Linked DNA regions of Homo sapiens. The protein of the gene in region 1 purifies or fractionates together with the protein of each later gene. This does not show direct contact. Each region holds a gene or a part of one and is shown on either strand. Other genes may lie near its edges.

What was found.
Region 2: the proteins of MYBBP1A (region 1) and PUM3 purify together in Homo sapiens (affinity purification with mass spectrometry; 2 studies listed by BioGRID and IntAct, with this or other methods). This does not show direct contact.
Region 3: the proteins of MYBBP1A (region 1) and STAU1 purify together in Homo sapiens (affinity purification with mass spectrometry; 2 studies listed by BioGRID and IntAct, with this or other methods). This does not show direct contact.
Region 4: the proteins of MYBBP1A (region 1) and NCSTN fractionate together in Homo sapiens (co-fractionation; one large-scale study listed by BioGRID). This does not show direct contact.
Region 5: the proteins of MYBBP1A (region 1) and CTCF purify together in Homo sapiens (affinity purification with mass spectrometry; 2 studies listed by BioGRID and IntAct, with this or other methods). This does not show direct contact.
Region 6: the proteins of MYBBP1A (region 1) and MCM5 fractionate together in Homo sapiens (co-fractionation; one large-scale study listed by BioGRID). This does not show direct contact.
Region 7: the proteins of MYBBP1A (region 1) and DDX54 purify together in Homo sapiens (affinity purification with mass spectrometry; one large-scale study listed by BioGRID and IntAct). This does not show direct contact.

Annotation. Positions count from the first base shown.
Region 1 is NC_000017.11:4,541,442-4,545,649, reverse strand, and holds part of MYBBP1A (myb-binding protein 1A), read left to right. Parts: coding exon 1-40; intron 41-304; coding exon 305-391; intron 392-474; coding exon 475-624; intron 625-728; coding exon 729-899; intron 900-1,003; coding exon 1,004-1,161; intron 1,162-2,484; coding exon 2,485-2,737; intron 2,738-2,908; coding exon 2,909-3,034; intron 3,035-3,117; coding exon 3,118-3,186; intron 3,187-3,758; coding exon 3,759-3,866; intron 3,867-4,085; coding exon 4,086-4,187; intron 4,188-4,208. UniProt on the Homo sapiens protein: May activate or repress transcription via interactions with sequence specific DNA-binding proteins. Repression may be mediated at least in part by histone deacetylase activity (HDAC activity).
Region 2 is NC_000009.12:2,819,650-2,823,867, forward strand, and holds part of PUM3 (pumilio homolog 3), read right to left. Parts: intron 4,186-4,218; coding exon 4,132-4,185; intron 450-4,131; coding exon 369-449; intron 1-368. UniProt on the Homo sapiens protein: Inhibits the poly(ADP-ribosyl)ation activity of PARP1 and the degradation of PARP1 by CASP3 following genotoxic stress. Binds to double-stranded RNA or DNA without sequence specificity. Involved in development of the eye and of primordial germ cells.
Region 3 is NC_000020.11:49,181,431-49,185,648, reverse strand, and holds part of STAU1 (double-stranded RNA-binding protein Staufen homolog 1), read left to right. Parts: intron 1-4,218. UniProt on the Homo sapiens protein: Binds double-stranded RNA (regardless of the sequence) and tubulin.
Region 4 is NC_000001.11:160,353,049-160,356,799, forward strand, and holds part of NCSTN (nicastrin isoform 1 precursor), read left to right. Parts: intron 1-111; coding exon 112-189; intron 190-274; coding exon of another isoform or gene 275-283; exon of another isoform or gene 284-1,046; intron 1,047-1,069; coding exon 1,070-1,242; intron 1,243-2,606; coding exon 2,607-2,709; intron 2,710-2,814; coding exon 2,815-2,910; intron 2,911-3,211; coding exon 3,212-3,299; intron 3,300-3,551; coding exon 3,552-3,706; intron 3,707-3,751. UniProt on the Homo sapiens protein: Essential subunit of the gamma-secretase complex, an endoprotease complex that catalyzes the intramembrane cleavage of integral membrane proteins such as Notch receptors and APP (amyloid-beta precursor protein).
Region 5 is NC_000016.10:67,610,782-67,614,999, reverse strand, and holds part of CTCF (transcriptional repressor CTCF), read right to left. Parts: intron 4,177-4,218; 5' UTR 4,168-4,176; coding exon 3,387-4,167; intron 3,050-3,386; coding exon 2,879-3,049; intron 1-2,878.
Region 6 is NC_000022.11:35,419,922-35,424,139, forward strand, and holds part of MCM5 (DNA replication licensing factor MCM5), read left to right. Parts: coding exon 1-91; intron 92-1,396; coding exon 1,397-1,539; intron 1,540-3,292; coding exon 3,293-3,420; intron 3,421-4,218. UniProt on the Homo sapiens protein: Acts as a component of the MCM2-7 complex (MCM complex) which is the replicative helicase essential for 'once per cell cycle' DNA replication initiation and elongation in eukaryotic cells.
Region 7 is NC_000012.12:113,171,713-113,175,930, forward strand, and holds part of DDX54 (ATP-dependent RNA helicase DDX54), read right to left. Parts: intron 3,446-4,218; coding exon 3,324-3,445; intron 3,225-3,323; coding exon 3,163-3,224; intron 3,060-3,162; coding exon 2,928-3,059; intron 852-2,927; coding exon 641-851; intron 1-640.

The DNA.
Region 1 (4,208 bases):
CTCCCACCTGACCCCGCGTGCCCTGCAGCTAATTCTGGATGTGAGTTGGGACCTTTGGGAGTGGAATGTGGGCTGGGGCTCACTGAGCAGCGAGCTGCACCAGGGGTGCCGCTTCAGCCTCCAGCCTCCCTGCCGGGAGCCTGCGGCCGGTGGGAGGGGTCTCAACGAGGCCTTGGCCTGGCCTGGCCGCCTCTCCTAGGCTCCGTTTTCTTCTGGGAAATGGAGGTCTTTGGTCAAGGCTGAGTGGGGCCTGGAGAGGAGGGCGGGGGCTGCAAATGGGTCAGTGGCTGGCACCCCTCCCCAGGTGCTGAACCCCGAGACCAGTGAGGATGAGAATGACCGTGTGGTGGTGACGGACGATTCTGATGAGCGGCGGCTGAAGGGTGCAGAGGTGTTGCCAGCATGGGCCGGGCGGGGGCGGTGGGGAGTGGGACGATCGGGGAGGTGTGTGACGCGCCTGCCTCTACCACACAGGACAAGAGCGAGGAAGGTGAGGACAACAGAAGCTCAGAGAGTGAAGAGGAGAGCGAGGGGGAGGAGAGCGAGGAGGAGGAGCGCGACGGGGACGTGGATCAGGGCTTCCGGGAACAGCTGATGACCGTGCTGCAGGCTGGGAAGGCGCTGGTGAGTGGGGGAGGTGGAGGGGGGGGCGGCCGGGGAGGGCTCGGGTGTCCCCATGTTGTGTGCCTGCCCGAGGCCTGGCTGACCGCTGGGCCTCTGTCCCTCAGGGTGGAGAGGACAGTGAGAACGAGGAGGAGCTGGGGGATGAGGCCATGATGGCCCTGGACCAGAGCCTCGCCAGCCTCTTTGCCGAGCAGAAGCTGCGTATCCAGGCCCGGCGAGACGAGAAGAACAAGCTGCAGAAGGAGAAGGCTCTGCGGCGCGACTTCCAGATCCGGGTGAGCCTGGGGGCGGGCCGCACCCACCCCCGCCTCCCTGTGCGCCCACCCCCGCCTCCCTGTGCGCCCACCCCCGTGTTGCTGACCTGCCCTCCTGGCTGCAGGTGCTGGACCTGGTGGAGGTGCTAGTGACCAAGCAGCCCGAGAATGCCCTGGTCCTGGAGCTGCTGGAGCCGCTGCTGAGCATCATCCGGCGCAGCCTGCGCAGCAGCAGCTCCAAACAGGAGCAGGACCTTCTGCACAAGACGGCGCGCATCTTCACGTGAGCACGGGGGTGCAGGGCGGGCAGGTGTGGCCGGCAGCCCCCAGGCGCAGGAGAGCCAGAGCTCTAGGCTTGCTGTCTGCACAGGAAGGAGAGAGCCAAGCTTCCAGCCTGGGCCCCTAGCTCGCAGGCTCACTGCTCAGCCCTAGAGGCACACGTCACTTAGTGATTCCCACAGTCCTTGCTTCATCCCCGCGTTCTCCCGACACAGTGCCAACAGTGCCCTGGAGCTGGGGTCCATCCCTGCCCTTGACAGTCTCAAGTGGGGCTGTGCCAACAGTGCCCTGGAGCTGGGGTCCATCCCTGCCCTTGACAGTCTCAAGTGGGGCTGTGCTGGGGTGGAGGGGGACAGTGGGTGCACCTGTGGCAGGGGACACCCAACCCAGTCCTCGGAGGTGTAGTGTGCATGGGAGTTTGTCAGGCTGGGAGGCCTTGGGCAGGGCAGAAAGGGAGGAAGAGCATCCTGACGGGAGCTGGTCAGACACGCAGCTGGAAGGTCAGGCAAGCAGCGAGGCCACAGACCCCCGCACCCTCGCAGGCCCTGACCCTAGCGGTGCTGGAGGCCACAGAGGCATTATCAGCAAGAGCAGTGGCGTGGGGAAGGGTCTGAGTCTGGTTTGCCTTTTCAGAAACGGCTGGCAGCGTGGAGAAGGGTTTGGGAGGGGCTGTGCTGGAGGCAGAGGGCCCAGGAGGGAGGCGGTGGCAGGCGTGGGAGAGACAGGCAGGCACCTGGTAGACCTGCCTTCAGAGCTCAGGTGCTGGGGAGGTGAAGGCCTGGGAGCTGGGGCGCTGCGTGGATAGTCAGGAGGGGTGGGGAGTGTGACTGGCAGTGCATTCTTCACAAACCCAGGCCCGCCCGGGCCACGCCTTCTCAGATAGTTCTGCCAGCGTGCGTGGACAGTGTCGTTTGTTGAGCATCCTGCCTCTTGCCCCCATTATATCCCCGGCCCTGCAGGGCCACAGAGGGTTCTAAGCACATGAACCCTTGTCTCGCTTTACAAAAGGCCTGAAGGCCACTGCCCCATGAGAGACAAGTGTAGACAGGAGGGGTGCCCCAGGCAGGCAGTTGGCCCTTGGTGCAGCCTCCACTCAGGGAGCTGTTCTGTTCTCCCCTGGAGCGCCCCTGTCACCCCAGCACTCTGAGCCCACACAGCTTCCAGGCAGCCTGCAGGCGGCCCTGGGCCCTCCTCTGTGGCCTGGGTCGCCTCTGTCGTCTTCTAGGTCTGTTTCCCCACTTATAAAGTGGGACTTGGGTTGGCTCTGCTTGGCGGAGCAGGGTGGACCGAGAATGTTCTGACCAGCTCTCGTCCTCACCACCCACAGGCACCACCTGTGCCGTGCCCGGCGCTACTGCCACGACTTGGGTGAGCGCGCAGGGGCCCTGCACGCCCAGGTGGAGCGGTTGGTGCAGCAGGCTGGCCGCCAGCCCGACTCCCCCACCGCCCTCTACCACTTCAACGCCTCTCTCTACCTGCTCCGGGTCTTGAAGGGCAACACTGCTGAGGGCTGCGTGCATGAGACACAGGAGAAGCAGAAAGCTGGCACTGACCCCAGCCACATGCCCACGGGCCCGCAGGTGAGCAGGGCCTGGCCCAGGAGCAGCCCCAGGCATTTCACAGCCAGGGAGTGGAGGCCGGGACTTCCCCAGGGCCCAACCCTCAGCCTTCTGATGAAGGTAGGCCAGGCTCTGCTCCCATCCCAGGGACCCCTCTCCTGGCCTCACCCAGCTCGCTCTCCCCTGGCCTAGGCTGCCAGCTGCTTGGACTTGAACCTGGTGACCCGGGTGTACTCGACAGCACTGAGCTCCTTCCTGACCAAGCGCAACAGCCCCCTCACAGTTCCCATGTTCCTCAGCCTCTTCTCCCGGCACCCGGTGAGTGTTGGGGCCTGCCCTGCTTCCTCATGGTCCCTGCTCAGCCCAGCCTGCACCTCACAGCCCTTGTCACTCCCCACCAGGTGCTCTGTCAGAGCCTGCTCCCCATCCTGGTCCAGCATATCACGGGCCCGGTGCGGCCCCGTCATCAGGTGAGAGACTTCCCAGCTCCCAGCCCAGGGCCTGTCTGAATTAACCCGCTTAACCCTCTTCTGACTGGATATTGTGAGGCCCCAGAGCGCTGTCCTGGTGAGCACGGGCACAGCTGTCCCTGCCCCACTGGCTTGGCTGTGGGTACATGGTCTCTGAAGGGGGTGGCCGTGCCCTGGCCCCTGCCACACAGTGAACACACAGGAGCTGAGGGGGCAGGGCCAGCCTCACTCCCGCAGCCACTGCTGCCCATCTGGCCACACACAGGATGCCCCTGGTAGTGTCTGCTCTGGTGCCAGGGCTGTTGGGGGCAGGCTGGAGGAAGATGGCACTAAGCCAATAATGGGCAGGAATTGTCCCAACCTGAGGTCCCACCTCTATCCAGCTGGGAGGCCTTGGTGTCCCCACCTGCACACAAAGGCACAGGAGCAGGTAGTCACAGAGCCCAGAGCAGCAGGCAGCCTCACACGCTGCCCACAGCAGTGCCCAGCGGGCCCCCGAGCCCTCATGCATCCCTGAGCCGTGAGCACCCAACGTGCCAAGGCTCCTGCCACCCACCTTTGCCCACCCACAGGCCTGCCTGCTGCTCCAGAAGACCCTGTCCATGCGGGAGGTGAGGTCGTGCTTTGAGGACCCCGAGTGGAAGCAGCTGATGGGCCAGGTCCTAGCAAAGGTCACCGAGGTAACAGCCGGGGGGCGCCCTTTCCCCACCCCCTCAGAATCAGTTCTCCGGGAGACCGATCTCTGGGAAAGAAGTGAGGATTGGAGCCTGAGTCCAGAGTCGGGAGAACTGGGGTTGTCCCAGGAGACGGTCCCTGCCTCTGGGCTTTACTTCCGGCTGGGAAACAGAAAGGCTTTGAGCAGCTCTCCGGAGTGCCTCAGCCTGGCCACCCTTCCCTAGAACTTGCGCGTGCTGGGGGAGGCGCAGACCAAGGCGCAGCATCAGCAGGCACTGTCCTCCCTGGAGCTGCTCAACGTTCTCTTCAGGACCTGCAAACATGAGGTGAGGCGGGGGCCCAGTCCG
Region 2 (4,218 bases), on another chromosome or scaffold:
CTGGAATAACTAAGGAATTACTATGCTAGTTTCTGATCATATCTAAATATCACTTTGCTAATTTTCCATAGTTTAGAATCACGTATGTTCTAAAGTACCATGTTATCCTAATCCAAAATAAAAGTGTTAAATCTTAATTTGACCAGTCTTAAATATTTAAAACAGTATTAATATCAAGTTACAAGGTTAAGATTTACACAGGAATAAAACAAACCTCCAAAATAAAACATAATTAACTTAAAAGTAAGCAAAAATACTGATAGAAGGCACAGCTGCAAGTCTTTACACATGCATGGTGAAATCAAGCTTACACATCCACAACTGGTTTATCGATGTAACTTAAATTCAAGACCATCAGGATTACTTACTGATATGATTATCTGCTTCACAAGCTTAGTATCATCAATACAATCAAATGCCGCCAGTAAAACCAAATGGGAGTATTGGCCCTGCAAGAATTGGAAGCCAGCAAAGGTTAAAAACAAGTGCATAGATCTTCCCTCTTATTTCACACATGGAATATCTTCATAAAGGTAGAGCGAGACTCCGCTCAAAAAAAAAAAAAAAAAAAGATTACCTACATTGACAACTTGTCTAACATAACAAGATGAATAAAAGCCATTTTAATGAACTTCCTCTCTTATCACGACCTCATTAATTATATTCTAGAGGTAAGGTTGATTTTTTTTTAAAGCACATTATTCATTACCAAATAGTCTAAAACTAATACCTATTTACATAGGTTACTGTTAATGAATAGCTACTTGAAAATTATACTTAAAAGTTCAAGTTATAAGATTAACTTCAAAAAACCTACATATATAAACACATATATGATACTCCAATCATGAAAAAGAAAATATAAACTCATACAATTTTACACACATACACACACACACACGATATACATAATACATGTACACAGAAAATCCTGGAAGGCAAGGCATTGTAATAGTCATCTCTGGGTTATACAAATGATTTTTAATTTTCTTTTCTATATTGCTCAATTTCTTTAAAGTGATCTCACAAAATTAGAATATAAATATGAAAAAATAAACTAGAAGAGTATAATTATACACTGAATGAGAATGATATAAAAATCATTACTTTAAAAAAAGTATAGCTGCATGAGATCACAGAAATACACATGTGGCTTTCACAACACTCATCTTTTGAAATAAAATTATTTCCATGATGCTAATACTGTTCCAAACATTTAAAGAACACCTACTTTATGTTAAGAACAAAAACAAAAGAAAACAAAAACCTGTTTCCAGAGCTTGTGGCATGAGTATCCTGGATGTTGATATAATTGTTTCAAACTCTGATAGGAATTTGATTTTTGATAATAGCCCACAATCATTCAGAGCCAGATCTGATAAATATCACAGATAATACAATTTCAATTAGAAACAATAACGAAGTTGCTAACTGTAAAGTCAAAAAGACAAACTGAAGACAAACAACAAAGGTCTTACTATACAAAGACCAACAACCAACTAAAAATGGGCAAAGCCAGGTGCGGTAGCTCACGCCTGTAATCCCAGCACTTTGGAAAGCTGAGGCTGGTGGATCACGAGGTCAGGAGATCGAGACCATCCTGGCTAACAGGGTGAAACCCCATCTCTACTACTAATACAAAACATTAGCTGGGCATGGTGGTGGGCGCCTGTAGTCCCAGCTACTCAGGAGGCTGAGGCAGGAGAATGGCGTGAACCTGGGAGGCGGAGCTTGCAGTGAGCCCAGATCGCGCCACGGCACTCCAGCCTGGGCGACAGAGCAAGACTCTGTCTCAAAAAAAAAAAAAAAAAAAGAACATGAAGAGTCAGATCACACTAAAACAGAAGTACAAATGTCTTTAAATGTATGAAATAATGCTTTATGAACTAATTAAGGACAATAATTAAAACAATGAAATGCCATTTATCCTATGGGTGATGGTGAAAACCTCTGACAATAGACTAATTTATCAAAGGTTTAGGGAAAAGCAGGCACGCTTTTATGTTGATGAGAATGTAAAGTGGTTCAACTTCTTTGAAGAGCAATTGACAACACCTATACAAATTTAAAATGCAGGTATGAGCTGATCCAGTGATTCTAGTTCTAGGGATTTATCTTGCAGACGTGTTTCCATGTAAGTACAAAGACTTACATATGAATATATTCACTGGGGTACTAATTGTAATTTTAAAAACTCTAGAAACTACCAAAATGCCCAACAGTGGGGACTGGTTAAATAAATTATGGTATAGGCACACGATGAAATATTACAGTCACTAAGAAAAGTGAGGTAGACAGATGTATGTATATTGAAATAAAATGACCCATAATATGAATTAAGTGAAGGAGACAAAATATAGAACAACGTGCCTAGTACAAAATCACTGGTTTCAGTTCTCTTAACTCGGACACACATAAGCATAACCAAGCATAAAATATTTCTAGGTGAATACAACAGAAGGTGGTACAGAATTGAATGTAAGTGAGAAACAGACAAATCCACAAGTATAGTTGGAAATTTTAACATGTTTCTCTCAGCAACTGATAGAACTAGAAAATAATAAGTCAGTAAAAACACTGATGGTATGAACACTGTCAACTACTTTGATCTAATTGACAAATATAGAATACCCCACCAAACAACTCTACAATATATTATTTTCAAAATACTTAGACCATATGTTAGGCCATAAAACAGGTCTCAGTAAATTTAAAAGGAACAAAAGAATATAGAATATATCCAGAAACCCCCAATATTTGGAAATTAATAATTCCAAATAATCCATGGATCAAATCCATGGGTAACGTTAGCTTATCACCCCTTTAGAAGTAACTCTTCGAGATTTAAAAAGATATGTACTTAGTGTTAAATTACCTGACATAAACAAACTGTAGAACTAAAACAATATAATTTTATTATTTTAAAATGTTATACTCTTAATACCTTTGTGAATTTTCTATTAACATTCTAGTTTTTACTCATTTTAATGTAAGGTATTCAAATTAGAATGTCACGCAAAAAAATTTACTTAATATTGAATTATGAATTATAATTATGAATTATATTTATATTTATAACATAATAATATAATGTTATATAATATATAACATTATAATTCATATTATAATTATGAATTATGAAATATATATGAATATTGAATTATGAATTATAAAAAATATGAGAATTCCATATTTCACTTTATTATAGGAACGTTAGCTGCCTTCTGAATTCTTCTAATTTCTAGCCCAACAGAAGACAATAGTCAAGTACACAATCACACAGCATTAATTTTAACTTGTTTGATTTAGTATTTCAAACAAGTTGAAGTATTCCCCAGATGCTAGTAGTTCTCACTGGATGTTTTCAAAGGATAAAGTAGTTGATTACTACATAATTTTAGTTCATCAATAAATTAGAAATTTGTTATCCATCAAATATATAAAGTATAACTCAAAAATTAAAATTGTATTCACTACATATATTCTAGTTACAGTACACCATAGCAACAGCATGAAAAATTATTTAATAACTAAAAACATATAAACACTATTTTTGAAGCAACAAATCCCCCAGAAAAAACTTTTGTACCTATGAATTTCATTAGGAAAATTGTTACTGCATTTCTAAAGAGCTATAAAATTTAACAACTAAAAATTTCCATAACCACACTGCAAATTTATTCTTAAAAAAAAGATACATTTTAATTTCTTTTATGGTTTTGGTCATAAGGAAAACTACTATCAAGTTTCTGAAGTGCAATCTGGCATCATTTACCCAGAGACTAAAATATGTACATACTGTATCCAGGCAGTAATTCCCATATTTAATTAACATGACTGGACAAATTCACCAAAAAAGCTAGTAAATATCAGGTTTTCAAAGAATATCTAATAAAAGTAGAGAACTATCACAATACAATGTTAAATTAAAAAAGGAGAAAAGAATGCATGTGACATGATTTCCATTTTGTGTAGATAAAATATGAAAATACATGTAGATGCAAAGAAAAATATAATAAAACAATAATTTTCTGCTTGGTAATTTTCTGAATTTTTCCAAATTTTCTATAATAGACATGAATTCATCTTACTATCAAAAATAATTAGAATATGTAGTTTTATTATACTTACATTAGCCACCTTTTCAACATAAGTCTTCATTGTTTTCACAATCACTTTCCTGTCCTTAAAAAGGAAAGATTGTCTCACTGAATTTTC
Region 3 (4,218 bases), on another chromosome or scaffold:
TGTATCCCCCCACACAAACTAGATTATTTTGAAACAAATCTTAAACATTGTGTCACAACATTAGCGATTTTGACTTTTACCAGATTGCCCCAGATTAAGGTCACAAAATTTACTTTTAGTAGAATAATAGTTCTCATTTTTGTTTGTTGGGCTTCCCTTCTCTGTTTATACATGATTTCTGTACAGCAGAAAAGAAGAAGAAAATTAACTCTTGATCCAATGCCTTCAGCTCCTCAAAATCAAAATACAACCTTGCTGCTTTATTGTGTACAAAAGCAAAAATTCTTGAGCTATTAATGACTATAATTGAAAAGCGAACAAATACAGATTTCCCCAGTCCTGTTTTGGCAGAGACCTGCCTTTTAACCCACTTTAATAGAGATAACTTTGTGTCAAAGTTAAACTACAGTTAATAATTCATAATGAAAACTTAAAATGTTTCTTTACAGTAGTTGTGTAAAGATACTGCTGTTACCTTAGGTTAAGAATTAAGCAAAAGATAATCTTCTAACATAGAATTGTTTTCCAAAGTGCCCCCGTCTGCCCTATTTCCAAATAACAAATTTAGCAAATATGAATGAAACCTTAATTTTTGTGAATAGTATGAAATCACAGCATAAGTGTTCACGTTTTTCTTTCTTGTGTCTAAAGGATCTCTCTTACAATGGAAGTTGACAGGAATATTATAAATATTATAAATGTCTTTGTTGCATAACTTTCAAATTTCTGGTCGTGAATAGTTTTCAGCTTTTAGGTCTGTTATTTGAGTTTTGTAGGTGTACTTTGAGCTTGATCAGGTACAGTGGAAATGTTACATGTTATGTTTTAGTTATGACTACCTGGAAGATGGGGAAAGATACACCTCTTAAAATTGATTTAGGAAAGAAACGCCAATTTAGTATCTGGGAAAGGACACAACACATTTTTAAAAATGTGTAGTGCTTCCCATTAAGCTTAACGTAAAACTTTTAAGCATTGAGAATTGTTACCATAAATATAGTTTCTTGAGAATAAGTTGCTCTCTTTTAGGTTTCAGCCAGAAAGTCCATGTATATACAGATTACAGCAGGTCCTTGAATAATGTTGTTTCAAGATAATGTTGAGAAAAAAAACTGTCTGTGGAGTTTACACGTTCTCCCTATCCCTGCATGGGTTTTCTCTGGGTACTCTTGATTTCCTCCCACATCCCAAAGCTGTGCACGTGAGGTTCACTGGTGTGTGGAGCTGTGTGTGTAAGTGTGAGTGCTTTCTGCAGTGGATGTCCTGTCCAGGACTGGTTCCGGCCTTGCACCCTAAGCTGCTGAGATAGGCTCCAGCCACCCCAACCCTGAACTGGAATAAGTGGTAAAAAAAAAAATTTTTTTTTTTGAGATGGAGTTTAGCTCTTGTCACCCAGGCTGCAGTGCAATGGTGCAGTCTCGGCTTACTGCAACCCCATGCCTGTAATCCCAGCACTTTTGGAGGCTGAGGTGGGCAGATCACCTGAGGTCAGGAGTTGGAGACCAGCCTGGCCAGCATGGCGAAACCCTGTCTCTACTAAAAATAAAAAAAATTAGCCGGGCTGGGTGGCGGGCACCTGTAATCCCAGCTACTCAGGAGGCTGAGGCAGGAGAGTTGCTTGAACCTGGGAAGCAGAGGTTGCAGTGAGCGGTTATCGTGCCATTGCACTCCAGCCGGGGCAACAAGAGCAAAAGTACTTCTCAAAAAAAAAAAAAAGGCATGTATACTTCACATTTATTTCAGTGTTTAATATTCGAAGTGTTTGGTCTTTATTTAAAAGTTTGGTGATATTTTTCTGATGAGAAATATGCCCTAGAACCTAACTCTTGTTTGTATCAATAAGCGTGTGTTAGTCGGAAGTCTCAGTTTCCAAGAACCTACCCCTTATGTTAAGAGAGGATTTACTGTATTTTAAGTTTAGAAATGGCCATGACTCATGGAACTCTCCTCCATCCCCATTCTAAAGTCCAGATCATTGATATCATTCTGGGTGTTATCAAAATGGATACTGCTTCATCCAGTCTCTCTCCCCAATACCACAAGGTAGTCTCAGTTTGTGGGGCAACTTTCTTTGAGCCTTTTTACTGGATTGAGTAAGAGTGTAATTCAGTATAAAGATGAAACTTTCATGAAAAGGGTATCTTTTTGTGGGATTCCACAAGTCAATCCCAGAGTTTGTCGCCCAGGCTGGTCTTGAACTCCTGAGCTCAAGTCATCTTCCCACCTCAGCCTCCTTAGTAGCTGGGATTATAGGCAGAGGCCTTGTTTTCATGAGCCTCTAAATTGGATCTTCTTATTTGATGTGATACCCAGTGACACAGAATTGTTCAATTTGAGGAAATATAAATTCCTCCCCTCTCAAATAAGAGCTTTGGAGTTGCTTTTCTCTCAGAATGGGATTTTAGAGCTTTCAAAAATGTTTAGAGAATTTTATGACAGATTTGTTTCACACTAGACCTATAACAGGTTATTTTACATTGACTTCTGGTGATGGAGACATTTGTGGTTGAAATGCTTCTCGTGTAATTTTCTACATGAGCTTTTCTTTAAATAAAACTTCACCAGAGTCAAGGCTGTATACCATTTGTGCTGTTCCAAAAAATATAAATTGCCAGTTATCAGTTGAACTATGAGAGGACATGTTAGTTGCTATGGTTATTTACCCCCACCATTTTATTATGAAAAATTTCAAACATATAACAAAGTTTATGAAGTTTTATTGTACATCTCTTTAGATACCATCTACTTTCTATTTTTGCCTCCCTGTTTCATGGTGCTGAACACCGTCTACTATTTTTTTTTTTTTTTTTGAGACGGAGTCTGGCTCTGTTACCCAGGCTGGAGTGCAGTGGTGTGATCTCGGCTCACTGCAAGCTCCACCTCCTGGGTTCATGCCATTCTCCTGCCTCAGCCTCTCGAGTAGCTGGGACTACAGGTGCCCGCCACCATGCCTGGCTAATTTTTTTGTGTTTTTAGTAGAGATGGGGTTTCACCGTGTTAGCTAGAATGGTCTCGATCTCCTGACCTTGTGATCCGCCCACCTCGGCCTCCCGAAGTGCTGGGATTACAGGCGTGAGCCACTGTGCCCGGCATACCTTCTGCTCTTTGTCATGAACATTTTACCATACAGTATTATGAAGCTTGAATAATGTTGGCCAAATCCATTGTTCTCACCTGCTAAGGAGATAATAGGATTATAAATATATAGCTGTGTTGATCTTATCAAATGCCACGGGATGGATGGGCTTGGATATCTGTCTTGTTGACAGCTTAATGCTCTGAACTAGAAAACCTTACTGCAGAGAAAAGTAATATTTTTAAAGTGGTAAAATGGGAATTACTGCAAATAGCTTAATTTGTTTTTTAAGTGTTTACATTCCCATACTGGTGAATAAGGTTGATGTAACAGTGATTTATGTCACCAGATAAATGGAAGTAGAGAAAAATTTCTGCAGGCTGTTAATTGCTGTATATTTTCTGGGATTACATATGTTTATTTGTTAAAGAAGTAGACTCAGGGAACTCCCTCAAAGTATATTTACTGGAAGCAAAAGTGGAAAAATCTATTTGAGAAAGTGTTTGCTTTCGATTAAAAATTAGTCTTCTGAATATCAAATCTGTAACCCATCTGGCATCTGTTTAATCTGGAATCTAATTTGGGAAAGAAGTGTGATGACTATGTGGGTTTATAACAGTAATGGAAGCAAAACTGGCCATTTTATTATGATAGAAATTTTGTGTCATGTCTCCCAGACAATAAAGGCTAAGAAAATCTATTTAAATACATTGGGGTCTTTTCCCCTGAATGAACATGATTGCTGAGGGTTAAACCTTCATTAGATTGCCTCTGCTTTTTTTTTTTTTTTTTTTTTTTTTTTTTTTGTTGAGATAGTCTTGCTCTGTTGCCCAGGCTGGAATGCAGAGGTATCATCTCGGCTCACTGCAACCTCCACCTCCTGGGTTCAAGCAATTCTCCTGCCTTAGCCTCCCGAGTAGCTGAGACTACAATTGAGCACCACCACGCCCGGCTAATTTTTTGTATTTTTAGCAGAGATGGGGTTTTGCCATGTTGCCTAGGCTGGTCTCGAACTCCTGAGCTCAGGCAATCCGCCTGCCTTAGCCTCGCAAAGTGATAGGATTACAGGCTTGAGCCACTGTTCCCGGCCTTGCCCCTATACTTGATGTAGCTACAGAACTGGTTGCTCAGTGAGTGGGTTG
Region 4 (3,751 bases), on another chromosome or scaffold:
TCTGCGGTCTTAACTGCAGGAACCACCGCCTCTTCCCTTGACTTCTATCCCCTAGGCATGGCCCAGAACAGGAGACTGATTCTAAGTGTTGTTTCTTCATCCTCCCCCCAGGTGGCCTTAAGAACTTCATTAGAGCTTTGGATGCACACAGATCCTGTTTCTCAGAAAAATGAGTCTGTACGGAACCAGGTAACCTGAGCATCTCCCCTCATTTCCTATTCCTACAGCTCAGAATCCAGACCCCAACCCCTGCCCTGTTTCCACCAACCCCCAGGGCCTGTGAGACAGGGTAAGAGACAGGATTGGATTGGGTGTTGGCCAAAGGATGAACACCACAGCTGTTGTTGCTGCTGGGAAGAATCAGGAACTCAGTGACATTCCATTGGTTCCCTGGACTGGGTAGTTCTCTGATCATTTGTTGCCTAGCAGACTACCACTGCCCATTAAGGATAGGTGAGTGACTAGCTCCCTTCTTGCCTTGCTGCCCCATGGATCCAATTGTCAAGGCTGCTCTACCCAAGTCCTGGCTGTGTCACACTCGCTGCCCAACTTGTCCTCCACTTTCCTCATTGCTTGTTCAAAACCTTCCCTTCCCTCTAGGTCCACCTTTAGGCCTGCTTTTTTCCAGGTGGTCCTCTTTCTGCAATTCCAGCCTTCAGCATCATCCCTGCTCTGGACTCCTGTAGCATTTAAAGAATTGGTTATCTGTTTGGCATTCAGCACGCAGTTTTCTATTATTATTTGCTCCCTTCAATTCTGCACAATAAATAATAAGTGAAGCATCCACTGAGGATAAAGCAGAGTCTTGAAGACAGTAGAATTTACTTATAAATATGAAAAAAAAGGTCTCTTCTTTATGCCCCAATTTTCTAACTCTAAAAAGAATGGTGGAAGCTACAGGAAATTCAGAGAGCCTTGGTCCCAAAAGGCTTGAGGGATAAAGGTCTACTAGAGATAGGGTAGCTCCCCAAGCAGGGAACTTGAAGTATAGAGCATTTCAGGCCTAAAAGAGACCTCCTGCTTCCCATCCCCCAGCCTCCCATCAGTTAATCTCCCTCGTACCCCCCAGGTGGAGGATCTCCTGGCCACATTGGAGAAGAGTGGTGCTGGTGTCCCTGCTGTCATCCTCAGGAGGCCAAATCAGTCCCAGCCTCTCCCACCATCTTCCCTGCAGCGATTTCTTCGAGCTCGAAACATCTCTGGCGTTGTTCTGGCTGACCACTCTGGTGCCTTCCATAACAAGTAAGAATCACTTGGCCCTGCACCCTCTTCATTCTTGAAGAGAGTCTATTCTGCAGTCTGGGAGGAAGGTCACTGCCCTCCGCTTTCCCACACTACCCCCTCCAGAACTTCAGGTCCATCTGTATTCTTTGCTCAGTGGCGTTTTCACATCTGAACTGAAACCCTTATTTGTTTGACTGGATATTCATCTTAGAAACTCATCCTCACCCTTAGCCCTTTACTGTCAACAATCCTTGGTTATGGTTCCACTGCTCCCTAGCTCTCCAGGGTCCTGAGTTCCTCAGGGTTGCCAGCAGAGGGCATCATCTCAAACACAAGCATGGGAAGGATGGTGGGGGCCCTTTGGCTAGAAGACAGAAAGCAGTCCTTCTCTGGAACTCACCCAGAGGTGCCAGAAACAGTATTCATACTCTGTGAAATGTACCATGTTCTTGCCATGTGGTAGATGGCCATGGTTCAGTGCGAGGGTAAAAGTGCCTCCTATAGCTGATGGGGCTCCAGAGATACAAAGGGTAACTCTGGGTTACCCTTTAACTGCTCCTAACTTGAGGCCTTGGATAACAGGGGACTTCTTACTCAGGCTGGATTGCCAAGCTTCCCGAGGGCCAAATGAGTTTCGTAGTGAAAATGCTTGAGCTCTATTTCTGACCCCAGCCAAGTAGCACCTTCTCATTCATTTAGGGGAGTGACCGTCCTAGCACTTAGGGTCAGCTGTCTTCTCTAAAGCTATCCTTGTACCACTTTGGGGCAAGTGAAGATTCATCATTTGAACACATTTTGGATTTGATTATGTAGCTGACTTGACTTTGTGTGGGACAGGGATTTACTGATGGTAAAGACTGTGGAGCTCAGCCTCTCTTTTAAGATCTATCTCCTTGGGGCTCCATAAGGATCATCATGGTGATTTTATCAGTGTATTCTTATATATCAGTGAGCAGACCTGATCCTAAGACCTGCTAATCACCTCCTGCTCCCAGCTACCCTAAATATAAATGTTCATTGGAACAGTTATACAACTGATCTCATGATACATGGCAGAGTTCTCTGAAAATCATCTTAGCCATCCCCCATATCTCCAGCCCAAATGATGTAGAAGAGTCTCTCCTTTGTTTAAAGATCTGAGCTCATTCAGCTTTTCTACCTTGTCTGTCAGGAAAGTCTTTAATTTTCACTAACCACCTCACCCTCACTCCTACCTCCCTGTTCTCCACACCTTCTGCAATATGGGATCCTGATTGTCTCTCACCCCTTTCTTCTGATGCTGAAAATGAGATACTGAGTCCCTGCATAAGGAGCATTTGAGGGAGGAAAGGGGCAGAGCCCTGGCTAAATGTAGCCAAGGCTCATGCCGGCTTTCCTGGCAGATATTACCAGAGTATTTACGACACTGCTGAGAACATTAATGTGAGCTATCCCGAATGGCTGAGCCCTGAAGAGGACCTGAACTTTGTAACAGACACTGCCAAGGTAGCACTGAGCCAGGCTGGGTGGGAGCCTGGGGCACACAGTGAAGATGCTAGCATTTGAGGATAGGAGAGGTGGGCCATTCAGCCCCCTCCTCACCTACCACAGGCCCTGGCAGATGTGGCCACGGTGCTGGGACGTGCTCTGTATGAGCTTGCAGGAGGAACCAACTTCAGCGACACAGTTCAGGCTGATCCCCAAACGGTAAGCAGATGGGCCCTAGCTCCTTCTTTCTATTTACACAGCAAGCTGTCCCTATCCTCCCTTGCCCTAGTGTCCCAAACCTTGGAATTCCACATGACTGTTGATGCCGGTGAGAATGCCTCATGCCCCAGAGAGCTCTTGGGTGGGCCTCATCTGCATCTTATGAGCCAGCTACTGTCTCCCAACTCCAGTCTATCTGGCCAGTCTGGTTCCTGCCCCATGACTGGGTCTCCACTGATAATTCTTTCCCTGGGCTCCCTTCAAGTCACAGGGTTTTCTCTCTTTACTGTTCCAATCCTAGGTTACCCGCCTGCTCTATGGGTTCCTGATTAAAGCCAACAACTCATGGTTCCAGTCTATCCTCAGGCAGGACCTAAGGTCCTACTTGGGTAAGCATCTGGTGTGGGAATGGGACCCTTAGCTGAGGAAAGGGATAGAGAAAAAGTCTTTTGGTTTAACCTTTATTATTTTTTTTCTTTTTCCTCTCTGTTTTTCTTACCCCCTGTTTTCCTTTCTTTCTTCTCATATTTGATGGATCCTTTTCCATTGCCCTTCTTTCTGGCTGCTGCCAATCTTGGGCTTTTCCTATTTCACCCACCATCCACCCACCAAATCTTCCCTTCCCTTTGGTCTGCACTCAGGTGACGGGCCTCTTCAACATTACATCGCTGTCTCCAGCCCCACCAACACCACTTATGTTGTACAGTATGCCTTGGCAAATTTGACTGGCACAGTGGTCAACCTCACCCGAGAGCAGTGCCAGGATCCAAGTAAAGTCCCAAGTGAAAACAAGGATGTGAGTGGTGGTGGGTGTTGGAAGTGCCCTGGGGCCCCTTTCCCT
Region 5 (4,218 bases), on another chromosome or scaffold:
TGGCTAACATTTTTTTTTTCTATTTTCAGTAGAGACGGGGTTTCACCATGTTGGCCAGGATGGTCTCGATCTCCTGCCCTTGTGATCCGCCTGCTTCAGCCTCCCGAAGTGCTGGGATTACAGGCATGGGCCACCATGCCTGGCTTTTTCTTGAGACCGAGTTTTGCTCTTGTTGCCCAGGCTGGAGTGCAATGGCACGATCTCAGCTCACCGCAACCTCCGCCTCCTGGGTTTAAGTGATTCTCCTGCCTCAGCCTCCCGAGTAGTTGGGATTACAGGCATGTGCCACCACACCCGGCTAATTTTGTATTTTTAATAGAGACAGGATTTCCCCATGTTGGTCAGGCTAGTCTTGAACTCCTGACCTCAGGTGATCTGCCCGCGTCAGCCTCCCAAAGTGCCAAAGTGCTGGGATTACAGGCGTAAGCCACCACACCCGGCCACCTGGCTAATTTTTGTATTTTTAGTGGAGATGAGGTTTCATCATGTTGGCCAGACTGGTCTCAAACCCCTGACCTCAAGTGATCCACCCGCCTCAGCCTCCCTAGGTGCAGGGATTACAGGTGTGAGCCACCATGCCCAGCCATCAAGGCTCATCCTCACCAAGTTAGCTTTCAATTGCTACAACATCTTTTTTTTTTTTTTTTTTTTTTGAGATGGAGTCTCACTCTGTCGCCCAGGCTGGAGTGCAATGGTGCGATCTCCACTCACTGCAATTTCTGCTTCCTGGATTTAAGCAATTCTCCTGCCTCAGCCTTCCGAGTAGCTGGGACTACAGGCATGCGTCACCACGCCCGGCTAATTTTTATATTTTTAGTAGAGACGAGGTTTCGTCATGTTAGCCAGGCTGGTCTTGAACTCCTGACCTCAGGTGATCCACCCACCTCGGCCTCCCAAAGTGATGGGATTACAGGCGAGAGCTACGGCGCCCGGCTGCTACAGCATCGTAACAGAGGCAAAGGCGCCCCCTAGAATGCAATGCAACTGCATCTGGAACATGAAAAGGTATACTCCTCACCATAAACTGATACTCTTGGTGTATGCATCTGCTCTTATGGGTTTTGTTGGTATGAATCAGTCTTGCCAAATCTGCTGAGTAACCAGATAGACTGTACCTCTTACTTTCAAAGCTGAAGACCAGATAGAGAATGCCCACACCAAGGCACACCCATCTTGGGAAGTCCTGTTATGGGGCCATTTATTTATTTATTTATTTATTTTGGTGAGGCAGAGTCTTGCTCTGTCACTTAGGTTGGAGTACGGTGGCACAATCTTGGCTTACTGCAACCTCTGTCTCCCGCATTCAAGTGATTCTCCTGCCTCAGCCACCCAAGTAGCTGGGTTTACAGGCGTGTGCCACTACACCCAGCTGATTTTTTGTATTTTCAGTACAGAGGCGGTTTTGCCATGTTGGCCGGGCTGGTCTAGAACTCCTGGCCTCAGGTCATCTACCCCCCATTGGATTTCCAAAGTGCTGGGATTACCCAGTTACTTTTATTTAGTCATATGCCCCATCCTAGTGTCTTCAAAGTATCAAATAAAACATATTATCAAGTGTCTGAGTAGAAATTAGGGAGATGTTTAAAAGTAAGTCACATTAGTGAAGAATGTGCCCATGTGCAGCATACTGTTTATGATTAACACCCACTTGATCATGGTCATCTGACAACCAGCACAACAAATCTAAAACAAGGGTTGTCATTAGAAATTTTTAAAAACCTAAAAATCAAAAACAAGAGTTGTCATATGAAATGAAGTTATTCTGCATGAAAAACCATGTGAGAAGACTTGCAACCAACTTCCTACACTGGGATAACAAATAGCTCAGGAAAGCTTAAAGAGAGGTTTAGTGCACAGAGTCCCTCTACTTTAGAGACCTCAGGGAACCTGGCCACAGCCAACATGAAGCTAATATCAGAATATCTGAACACTAAAGTAAGTAGGATGCTCAAATAAATGTTTGAATTATCAGAATGGTGCCTTAGCTTTTCCATTCTGAAATTATGAATTATCTTCCTTGACGTGAAACAACCAGAAACAAAAAATGTTAAGGTTTGTTTTTGAGATGGAGTCTCACTCTGTCGCCCAGGCTGGAGTGCAGTAGCACTATCTCAGCTCATTGCAGTGTCTGCCTCCCAGGTTTCAAGCGATTCTCCTGCCTGAGCCTCCTGAGTAGCTGGGATTACAGGCACCCGCCACCACACCTGGCTAATTTATGTATTTCTAGTACAGATGGATGTGATTTTGTCACGTTGGCCAGGCTGGTCTCCAACTTCTAATCTCAAGTGATCTGCCCACCTCAGCCTCCCAGAGTGTTAGGATTACAGGCGTGAGCCACTGTACCCGGCCACTTTTTTTTTTTTAAATAAAGGTAGGATTTCACTTCTATTTCTTTTCTTTTCTTTTTTTTTAGACGGAGACTCGCACTGTCGCCCAGGCTGGAGTGCAGTGGTGGGATCTCGGCTAACTGCAAGCTCCACCTCCCGGGTTCACGCCATTCTCCTGCCTCAGCCTCCCGAGTAGCTGGGACTACAGGCGCCCACCACCACACCCAGCTAATTTTTTGTATTTTTAGTAGAGACAGGGTTTCACTGGGATTTCACTTCTATTTCTAACATTCTTCCTCATAGTACCAGGCATCTATTGCCTGAGACTTCTTTTTTTTAAGAGAGAGGGTGTTATTTTTCATTAAATTTTCTTTACATTTGTCTATAATAACTAAGTCCAAGTGCTTACAATAAAATCATGATTACAAAAAGGGCATCATAAGAAATAATAAAAACTTCCTTTAAATTCCCGCTGGAGTCAGCTTGAATGAATACTAAAAAGCGAAGTCTGAGCATTTGCTGTTGTAGCCCCCAACATTCTTATCCAGCACCTGTGTGTGTGTTAAGGTGATTCCTCAGGAGGGTGACTGTTCTGAATGCCCTGCCACAGAGATGGCACTTGTGTGGTCTCTCATCAGTGTGGCTTTTCATGTGACGATCCAAATTTGAACGCCGTGGACACGTGTAACTGCAAAGCTCACACTGGAATGTCTTCTTTACACCTATGTGCAAAATAAAACACTTACTTGCTGCAGAGTTTCAAAGTGTTAAGATTAATCCTAATCTTAAATTTCTACAAATATATTTGATTAGCTTTTAATAACAAAACCCAATATAAGTCATAATTATCTCATGTCACTAATACATTTCCTTCTTCTTTGGGATTAAAAAAAGAGCATTCAATCTGGAAAAAACTTATTTTAGACTGGTTTTAAAGAACGGTACCCACATAACGACCTTTTACAAATACGGTTAATATAAAACAACTTGCATATGCACTGTGTTGTATGCTTATCCCAAAATGGTTTTATGAAACCACTATGGATAAACTCGTTTTACCTTTCTTTTTAATTTTTGTTGGCTTTGGAGGCTTCATATTACCAACCACTTTCTCTGCATTAACCTCTGATAGCAGACCCTCCTGCTGTTCTTCCTCAAAATCGTAGACAGACACATCTACATCTTTGCCCTCCTCTGTATAACGCAGTTTGCTCTTTTTGGTTTTCTTTGTTTTTTTGGCTGGTGGCTGATAGTCTGGGTCTTTTTGCCAACTAGGATCTTCCTGGGGTGGAAGTTCCCCTTGTTCTAGTGTCTCCACCTCTCCATTGGCCCCCACTTTAACCACCTGAAACCCTTCAGGCAAAGGTAGGGTGTGGCATATCATGGGTTCACTTTCCGCAAGGCCCTCTTTAGACACTTCATTTTCATAAGCCCCCTGAAGTTCTTCTACTGAAGTGGTAGCAACAGGTACAGTCACAGGAACAGGTACTTGAACAAGCTGAAGTTCTCCTATGTTTATGGGCTGTTCCTCCATATTTACAACCTGTAAAGTTATAATCTGGGTATCGTCCACAGCAGCCTCTGCTTCTGGAGCCACTGTGCCCTCCATTACTTCAGTCTTCATCTGAAGAAGGGTGGGGTCCAGCTGTTCCATCATCACCATCTGTACACTGCTGTTGACATCCTGGACCACCTCACCCCCATCCGTCTGGTTCTGGGGTAAGTGGCAGGCATCTTCTTCCTGGCCCCCTTCCCGGCGTCTCTGGTAAGTCTTTCTCTCCTTTCCTTTAATAAAAGTTTCGGACTCCTCCACAATGGCTTCGACTGCATCACCTTCCATTTCCCCTGCCTTTATTAAGGGAGAACACAGATTGTTATTTAAAGCAAAGCA
Region 6 (4,218 bases), on another chromosome or scaffold:
AACTGAAGAACCGCTACATCATCATGCGGAGCGGGGCCCGTCAGCACGAGAGGGACAGTGACCGCCGCTCCAGCATCCCCATCACTGTGCGGTGAGCAGGCGGGCAGGGCTGGGCCATGGCAGATGGGGCTTGCTTTACACAGCAGGGTGTGCTTGGCAACCAGGGGCAGTGGTCCAGGCTTTTCACTTGGCACAGGCCCATAGTAGCTCTGGGCAGGAAGAGTCCCTTTGGAGCATAAACTATGGCCTCCTTGATCTCAATGATGATCCATGTTTCTTGATTTAAGGCCGGGCAAACCTAGACCCCTCTTGTCTGAATTTGGCCTGGCTTCTCCCATTGTAGGAAGCCCGAAGGGAGGGAAGGACCCAGGCCTGGGAGTCAAGAGTCTTGGGTCCCAGCCTCTAGCCCACTGTGTGACTGTAGGGAAATTACATTCCTTCTCTGGCCCTCAGTGCTTTTAGCTCCTAACTCTGTTCATTCTTGTGACTTTGTAGACAATACAGTGGGTAAGAGTTGGGATTTACCTGGTTTGAATCCTGTCTCCAGCACTGACTGGTTGGAAATGGATTTGGCTATAAGTAATGGTAAATCCAGATAAAGTAGCTTAAAGAAATAGGAAGTTCATTTCTCTTTTCTGTAGCACTGTCTGGAGGAAGATGGTATGGGGACTGGTGTGAGGACTCCTCAAGCTCCCCCTTACTCTTAGTCCGAGATGGCCGCTAGAACTTCAGCCATCACCTCCAGGCAGCAGGACAGGAAGGAAAGAGAGCTTCCCTTTTAAAGGACACTTCATGAAGTCCCACACAATGCTTGGACTTACAACTTACTGCCATAGATTGGTCACACAAATACAACCTGGTACAAAAGATGTCTGGGATGTGTTTTAGTGGATCGCTGTGTGCCAGACTAAAAACTGGGGTTCCAAGCTAGGTGCAGTGGCCTACATTGTGATCCTAGCACTTTGGGAGGCTGAGGCAGGAGGATTACTTGAGGCCAGGAGTTTGAGACCAGCCTGGGCAACATAGCAAGACTCCCATTTCTACAAAAAATAAAAAATTAGCCAGGCATTGTGGTGCATGCCTGTAGACCCAGCTCCTCAGGTGGCTGAGGTGGAAGGATCACTGGAGCCCAGGAGTTCGAGGCTGCAGTGAGCTATGATCATGCCACTACATTCCAGCCTGGTCCACAGAGCGAGACTTTGTCTCAAAAAAAAAAAAAAAAAAAAAAAATTGCAGTTCTATGACTAAGATCAAAAGGGAGATGGATTATGGGGACACCTAGCAGTCTCCACCACAGTCTTACCACTTTGGGCAAGCACCTCCCTGGTAACGGGCTGGCTGGGGAGGAAGGGAATAGCGGACCGAGGCTACCCTGAGCACGCTGTTGCCCCCACAGGCAGCTGGAGGCCATTGTGCGCATCGCGGAAGCCCTCAGCAAGATGAAGCTGCAGCCCTTCGCCACAGAGGCAGATGTGGAGGAGGCCCTGCGGCTCTTCCAAGTGTCCACGTTGGATGCTGCCTTGTCCGGTACCCTGTCAGGTGAGCAGATGCAGGGGCCATGGTCTCAATTGATCTGGGTTCCCTGGCTCGGAGCTCTGTGGGCAGGGCTCTGGCCTGCTGGGGGCCTGCAGTGTGTGTCTTGCTTCTCTGAGTTTGCTGAGCTTCTCTGAGTTTCTTTTTGCCATAAGACCCCTCTCCTCCTTTCTCCCCACCGCTGTTTCCTCCAAGATGGGAAGAAGCAGCTTCTCTCCAGACCCTTGAACACAATCCTCTTGACCCAGGTCATTGATGATAACCCTTCTCACTGGCTAGGAACAACAGTTGATGCTCTGCTTCCTAGAGCTTGTCAGCATTTTCAGTGCTTCCAGAGTTATTTCTTGCATTTTGCCTTACAGCTGCCCCCTGGAAGCCAGGTGAGCAGTCAGTCCTGCCCATGTTAGAAATGAGACAGCTGACACTCGAAGGGGCCTTTCCCTGGTGCCCAAGATCACAGTCGCTTGGCTGGAATGCAAGTCTCCTGGCCCCTAGGCCAGCGTTTTCCACACCATAAGCCATACTGTCTGGTTTCGGTCAGCCTTTCAACAGACTGTCCCAGGCACCGATCATGAGCCAGGCTACCTACGCTGGGGAAAATCTGTTCCTTCACCCAGCAGATACTTCATTAGTGTTACTGTTTGCCAGGCACTGTTCTAGGTGCTGGGAGTATAAGAGCAATCAATCACAGGGTCCCGGCCCTCCTGGGTTCTCATTCTCGTTCTAGTTGGGGAGAGATAGACAGTAGAGAAACAAATGCAGGTAGTGTAGGTAGTGAAAAAGGCAGTGAGGGAGATGATGGCAGGGCCAGGTGTGTTGGAAAAGGAGGACGTGCTCTTTCCCATGGAGTGAGTGGGCATGGCCTCTGCAAGGAGGTGATGCCAAGCAGGGAGCTGCATGAAGGGGACAGTGTGGCTCCTTGGGGGAAGAGCTGCTCAGGTGGAGGCAGCGCTAAGTGTCAGTTTCCCCAGGAGGGAGCAGGTTTGGTGCATTTGAATGGGGAGGCACTTGGGTGAGGAATGGGGTGGGTGGGGCCTGTTCCTCCTGTCCCCCTTGGTGAAGACTCAGCCTCTACCCTGGAGACACTTGCTGTCACATGAGACATTGCAGGTGGAGGCCTCTGGGATGCTGCAGGCACAGAGGGCAGGGGTGATATGGAGTGGTGATAATTTGAGTTGGGTCTTATGGGCTATGTAGGAGTTTGCCTCACAGACTCCCCTCTCAATGACTTCTTGACCATGAGCCCACCATCTCCTTAGCTGAAACACCAAGGCCTCTGTGGCAGTAATTGGAAGTCACGAGCCTCCTGGTTGCCGAGGGCTCCTCAGGGCACCTCGTAGATGTGTCCAGGGCAGGCTGGCTTCCCTCCTGGGTCACTGATGGGCCCCTTCCAACTCTCTCTCTAATCTATCTGCTCCAGCAACAAAAGGAGTCCTGCTGTGGCCTCCAAGGGCCCGCAGGACTTGGTCCCTAGTGACACTCTGGCCATGTCTCTGCTGCGCTGGGCCCCGGGCTGCTTTTTGAATGAGACAGGTGTGTTCCTGCCTCTGTGACTTTGTGCTTGGCCTGGAGTGTCCCCACATGTGCCATATCCTGTCTCCTCAATCAGGCCTGCACCACCCTGGCACACTCGGTGCCCTTTTCTGACTTACTCTTCGGGGCCTGGCTCAGGCTGTTCTTCCTTGGGCTAGAGGCTGTCTCTGTCCAAGAACTCCCATTGTCCCAGCTCCCCGGCTGCCTCACTTCTCCATGCCCACAGGGGTGGAGGGCTTCACCAGCCAGGAGGACCAGGAGATGCTGAGCCGCATCGAGAAGCAGCTCAAGCGCCGCTTTGCCATTGGCTCCCAGGTGTCTGAGCACAGCATCATCAAGGACTTCACCAAGCAGGTGAGCCTGCCTTGGAGTGGGGGTGTGAGCCGGCACGGGGTGCAGGTCTTCTGCTGGTTCCCACCCACTCAGCACTGGCATCTTACTCAGCAGACAGGCCCTGAACGGGGGTAGGATGGACAACTGTCCCTTTCTCAGACCTTTTCTAGCCATCATTCCTTCCCTAGGGACATCTTCATCAGGAGCAGGGATGGGGGTATTTTTTCTGTCCCACGAAGGGGAGGGGAGAGCAGAGGTGGTTGGATTCTGGTGAAACCCCATACAAGTTCCCCGCAGCCCTTCCCGTCTGTGCCTTTCCCCGTTGGCGGGCGTTTCATGGAGTGGGAAGGGGCAGAGCCATGAGAGTGAGCTTTCTGGCTCACTGAGGAGGGTACTGTTGGCCCCATAGAGAGAAGATGGGATTTCCCAGATGCTCTGGAAAACCTGTCACCTTTAAAATCTCAGGATTAATCCTAGTTTCTGGTCTCCGCTCCTTGTACATCATCTCATTTTGATTCAGGGCAGTTTAATGGGTGGTATCGTGTCTATTCTATAGGTGCGCAGACTGAGGCTTAGAGAAAGGTTTAGAGCTTCGGTTCTAGAGTCAGATGGGACTTAAGTCCCAGCTCTACCTCTTAATTGCTGTGACCTTGAGCAAGTGGCTTAGCCTCCGTGTGCCTCAGTGTCTGGTACACAGTGGGCACTCAGGAAGTGTGGGCCCTTTAGGTCAAAGGAGCCTGAGTACAAAGTTCCCCGTGAGCCTGGGGATGTCTGGGCTCTGTCGGAGTCCCCTCGGGCAGCACGTGCCGTTAGCCAGCC
Region 7 (4,218 bases), on another chromosome or scaffold:
TATGTCTACTTTACCACAACTTAAAATAGAAACATCAGAAGAATGGACACACACCAAAATGACGGCCATGTCATCAGAGAGCAATGGGGGACAGTGATCTCTGAAATGAGACCACAGCTGTTCCGTGACTTACGAAGGGCTGCGTCTCAATAAACCCAATAGCCGTCAAAAACACACGCACGGCACCTAACCCACTAAACATCGCAGCTCAGCCAGCCTGCCTTGAGCATGCTCCAAATACTTCCATTAGCCTACCCTTGGGCAAAATCATCCCACACATAGCCGATTTTAAAATAAAGTGTTGAGTATCTCATGTAACTTATTGAATACTGTACTGAAAGAAAAAAATAGAACAGCTGTATGGGTGCTATTGTAAAGTCAAAAAAACCATAAGCTGAATAATTGGGTTGTTTTTTTTTTTTGGTTTTTTTGAGACAAGATCTTGCTCCGTCACCCAGGCTGGATCGCAGTGGCACGATCGCGAGTTTGAGACCAGCTTAAGCAATATAGCGAGGCTCTGTCTCTAAAACAAGGCCCACAGCCACCCCATGTGCAGTGTCAAGAGTTAAGCCTTGTACCCTCGGCTTCTGCCAGGATCCGGCACCCCTGCCTGCCCCAGGGCCAGCCACGGGCTGCTTACCCACGCGGTGCAGGAAGAGTTTGCCCTTGGCGGGGAAGCTGTAGTTGATGACATTGTCCAGCAGCGGGATGTCCAGGCCTCGGGCGGCCAGGTCAGTCACAATGAGAGTGGAGCACTTGCCAAGCGTGAATTTGGCGAGATTGATCTTGCGGGCTGTCGGGTCTAGGGCACTGTAGATGTGGGCGCAGCTCACCCGCTGGGTCGTCAGCAGCTGCTCAGAGCAAAGATGGTAGCAAAGTGAGAAGGAGACTTGGAGGAGAAAGGAAAGGAAGCCAGACCATGGCGGGGGACGGGCACTGAGGTGCAGAGACAAGACCACGGGTTCTGGAGTCTGGCACCCTTGGTCTGAATCCCAGCTTGCTGGGTGATGCCAGTTTGGGGAGGAATGGAGCTTACAACACCTCCCACCTCTCTGCAGGGTTGTCTGAGGATCAGAGATGATGTGTGCAGAGGGCCCTCTCAGGGAAGCTGCAAATGCCACCTCAGTGCACAAGCCTTATCCGGATTCTGCTACAAACAAGCTGTGTGACCTTGGGCAAGTTACCAAACTTTTCTATGCCTCATTTTCCTCATCTGTACGAATAACTGCCCCTTCTTTGTGCCTTATTATGAGGATCACATGAGTCAGTATATACAGTGCTGAGAACAGAGTCTCAACATGGAACACTCATGAGAGTGCTAGCTGTTCTTTACAGATTACTATTTAAACTGGGCATGGTGGCTCACGCCTGTAATCCAGCATTTCGGGAAACCAAGGCTGGAAAATCACTTGAGACCAGAAACTCGAGACTAGCCTGGGTAACACAGCAAGACACCATCTCTACAAAAAAAATTAAAATAAATAAAAAATGAGCTGGCATGGTCAGGCATGACTTGTGCCTACAGTCCCAGGTACTTCGGAGGCTGAGGTGGGTGGATCACTTGAGCCCAGGAGGCAGAGGTTGCAGTAAGCCATGATCATGCCATTGCACTCCAGCCTGGCCAAAGGAGCAAAACTCTCTCTAAAAAAACAACTGTTTAAAAATTACTATTTTGGTCTTATTCACTGGTGACCCCAGCAGCTGCACAGAGGGAGTGTTGTTAACTGTGTGTGGAGTAAGTGAAACCCAGTGAACCATGTCCTCAGATAACAGACCCAGGTGTAGCTGACAGGGAGGCAGGCACCAACGGAAAGGGGCCCCACTGCCTTCTGGGGCACAGCGACTCCCCAGGCTTTGACCCAGGCGGGGGTCACACAGGCATAACACATATGAAAAAAATCTTTGAGCCACTCACACATGCTAACAGCGCTTCACACAGCTTGCTACATGCAGGTCATGCCTCAATCTTAAGAAGTCAAACAAACCACATACTAAAAATCTACAGGAAAATAACAGGATGGCAGGGACAGGCTTCAAAATAACCCGGATGTAAGGGGAACTAACGGATGAAGGTCAAGACCAGCTATCAGCTGGTAACAGTTGTACCTAGATAACGAGTACCCGGGGTTCATCATATTATTTTCTGATCTTAGAATTGGTTTGAAATTTTCTCACAATAAAAAGTTTAGGCCAGGCGCTGTGGCTTACACCTGTAATCCCAGCACTTTAGGAGGCTGAGACGGGCAGATCATTTGAGGTCAGGAGTTCAAGACCCACCTGGCCAACACGGCAAAACCCCGTCTCCATGAGAAATACAAAAATTAGACAGGCATGGTGGCGCCTGAAGTCTCAGCTACTCAGGAGGATGAGGCAGGAGAATCACTTGAACCTGGGAGGTGGAGGTTGCAGTGAGCTGAGATCGTGCCACTGCACTCCAGCCTGGGCGACAGAGTGAGATACCATTTCCAAAAAAAAAAAAAAAGAAATGTTTTCATAATCCCAGTACTATAATCCCAGTACTATGGGAGGCCAAGGTGGGAGGATCACCTGAGCCCAGGAGTTCAAGACCAGCTTGGGCAACCGAGTGAGAACCTGTCTTTACAAAATATAAAAATAAGTAACAAGTTAGTTGGGCATGGTGACATGCGCCAGAAGTCCCAAGTACTCGGGAGGCTGAGGCGGGAGAATTGTTTGAGCCTGGAAGGTCAAGGCTGCAGTGAGCCACGATTGTGCCACTGCACTCTAGCCTGGATGGCAGAGCGAGGCTCCGTCTCAAAAAAATAAAAAATAAAAATAAAAATGACCATCTTGAGCCCAGGCCCAGGCTCCTGGTCCGCTCTCGTGCTGCCCTCTAGTGACTGCACAGGGAACTGCAGCTCCAAACTCCAGCTGAAGGAGGTGCTCCTCCCACTCAGGACCCTGCTCACCTCAGTGAGGTACTCGGCGTGGTGCTTCGTGGCCACAAACACCACGGTCTGGTCCTGGGGCCGCACCACGTTGTGCAGCAGGTGGAGCAGCACGGCAGCCTTGGTGTCCTCCCGCACGAGGAAGAAGGAGGTCTGTGGGGAGAGGGCATCACGTGTTGGCTTACGGGGTCCTGGCCCAGGGCCTGCAGGGCCCACCTGGACACAACCTCCTGGGATGGGACAGGTGCAGCCTCACCTTCAGCTGCTCGTTGAGCTTGGTATCCACGTCAAGCCGGATGAGCACGGGCTCCGTGAGGCCTGCAGGAGACATGGGGGAAAGTGGGGGAGTCGCAGAGGGACTGGCCCCCAGGCCCCAGCCTGACCCCCAGCCCCCATCTCCACCCCCAGCTCACGCACCAGCCCGGGCAAATTCCACCAGCAGTTTGGGCAGCGTGGCGGAGAACAGCACCGTCTGGTGGCCCCCGGGGAGGCGGGCGATGATCTCCTGCAGCTGCTCTGCGAAACCCATTTCAAAAAGCCTGGAAGGGTAGAGGGCAGGACTGGGTCAGAGGGGGCCTTCACTCCCTGGAGTTCCAACCGCAGCCATCCTTGTCCCCACAACTTCTGCAGTGTCCCAGGGCTTGCCTCACTCTAACTCAGCCCACTCACACTTATCACGTGACTTCATCCTAAACAACAATAACCTTGAAATCTGGAATCTGTCTTGGTCATGTTCTTACAAACTCATGCTGAAATAAATGACAGCAGCCCAGGCTGGCTGCAGAGGCTCACACCTGTAATCCCAGCACTTTGAGAGGCCAAGGCAGGAGGAGTTCAAGAACACCCTAGGCGAGATCCCATCTCTACAAAAATAAAAAATTAGCTGGGGCCGGGCGCAGTGGCTCAGGCCTGTAATCCCAAGCACTTTGGGAGGCCAAGGCGGGCGGATCATGAGGTCAGGAGATCGAGACCATCCTGGCTAACACAGTGAAACCCCGTCTCTATTAAAAATACAAAAAAATTAGCCGGGCGTGGTGGCGGGCGCCTGTAGTCCCAGCTACTCGAGAGGCTGAGGCAAGAGAATGGCGTGAACCCAGGAGGCGGAGCTTGCAGTGAGCCGACATCATGCCACTGAACTCCAGCCTGGGCAACAGAGTGAGACTCCGTCTCAAAAAAAAAAAAAAATTAGCTGGGCATGGTGGCGCATGCCTATATTCCCAGCTACTCAGGAGGCTGACATGGGAGGATCCCTTGAGCCTGGGAGGTCGAGGCTGCAGTGAGCCATCATCACACCACTGTACTCCAAACTGGG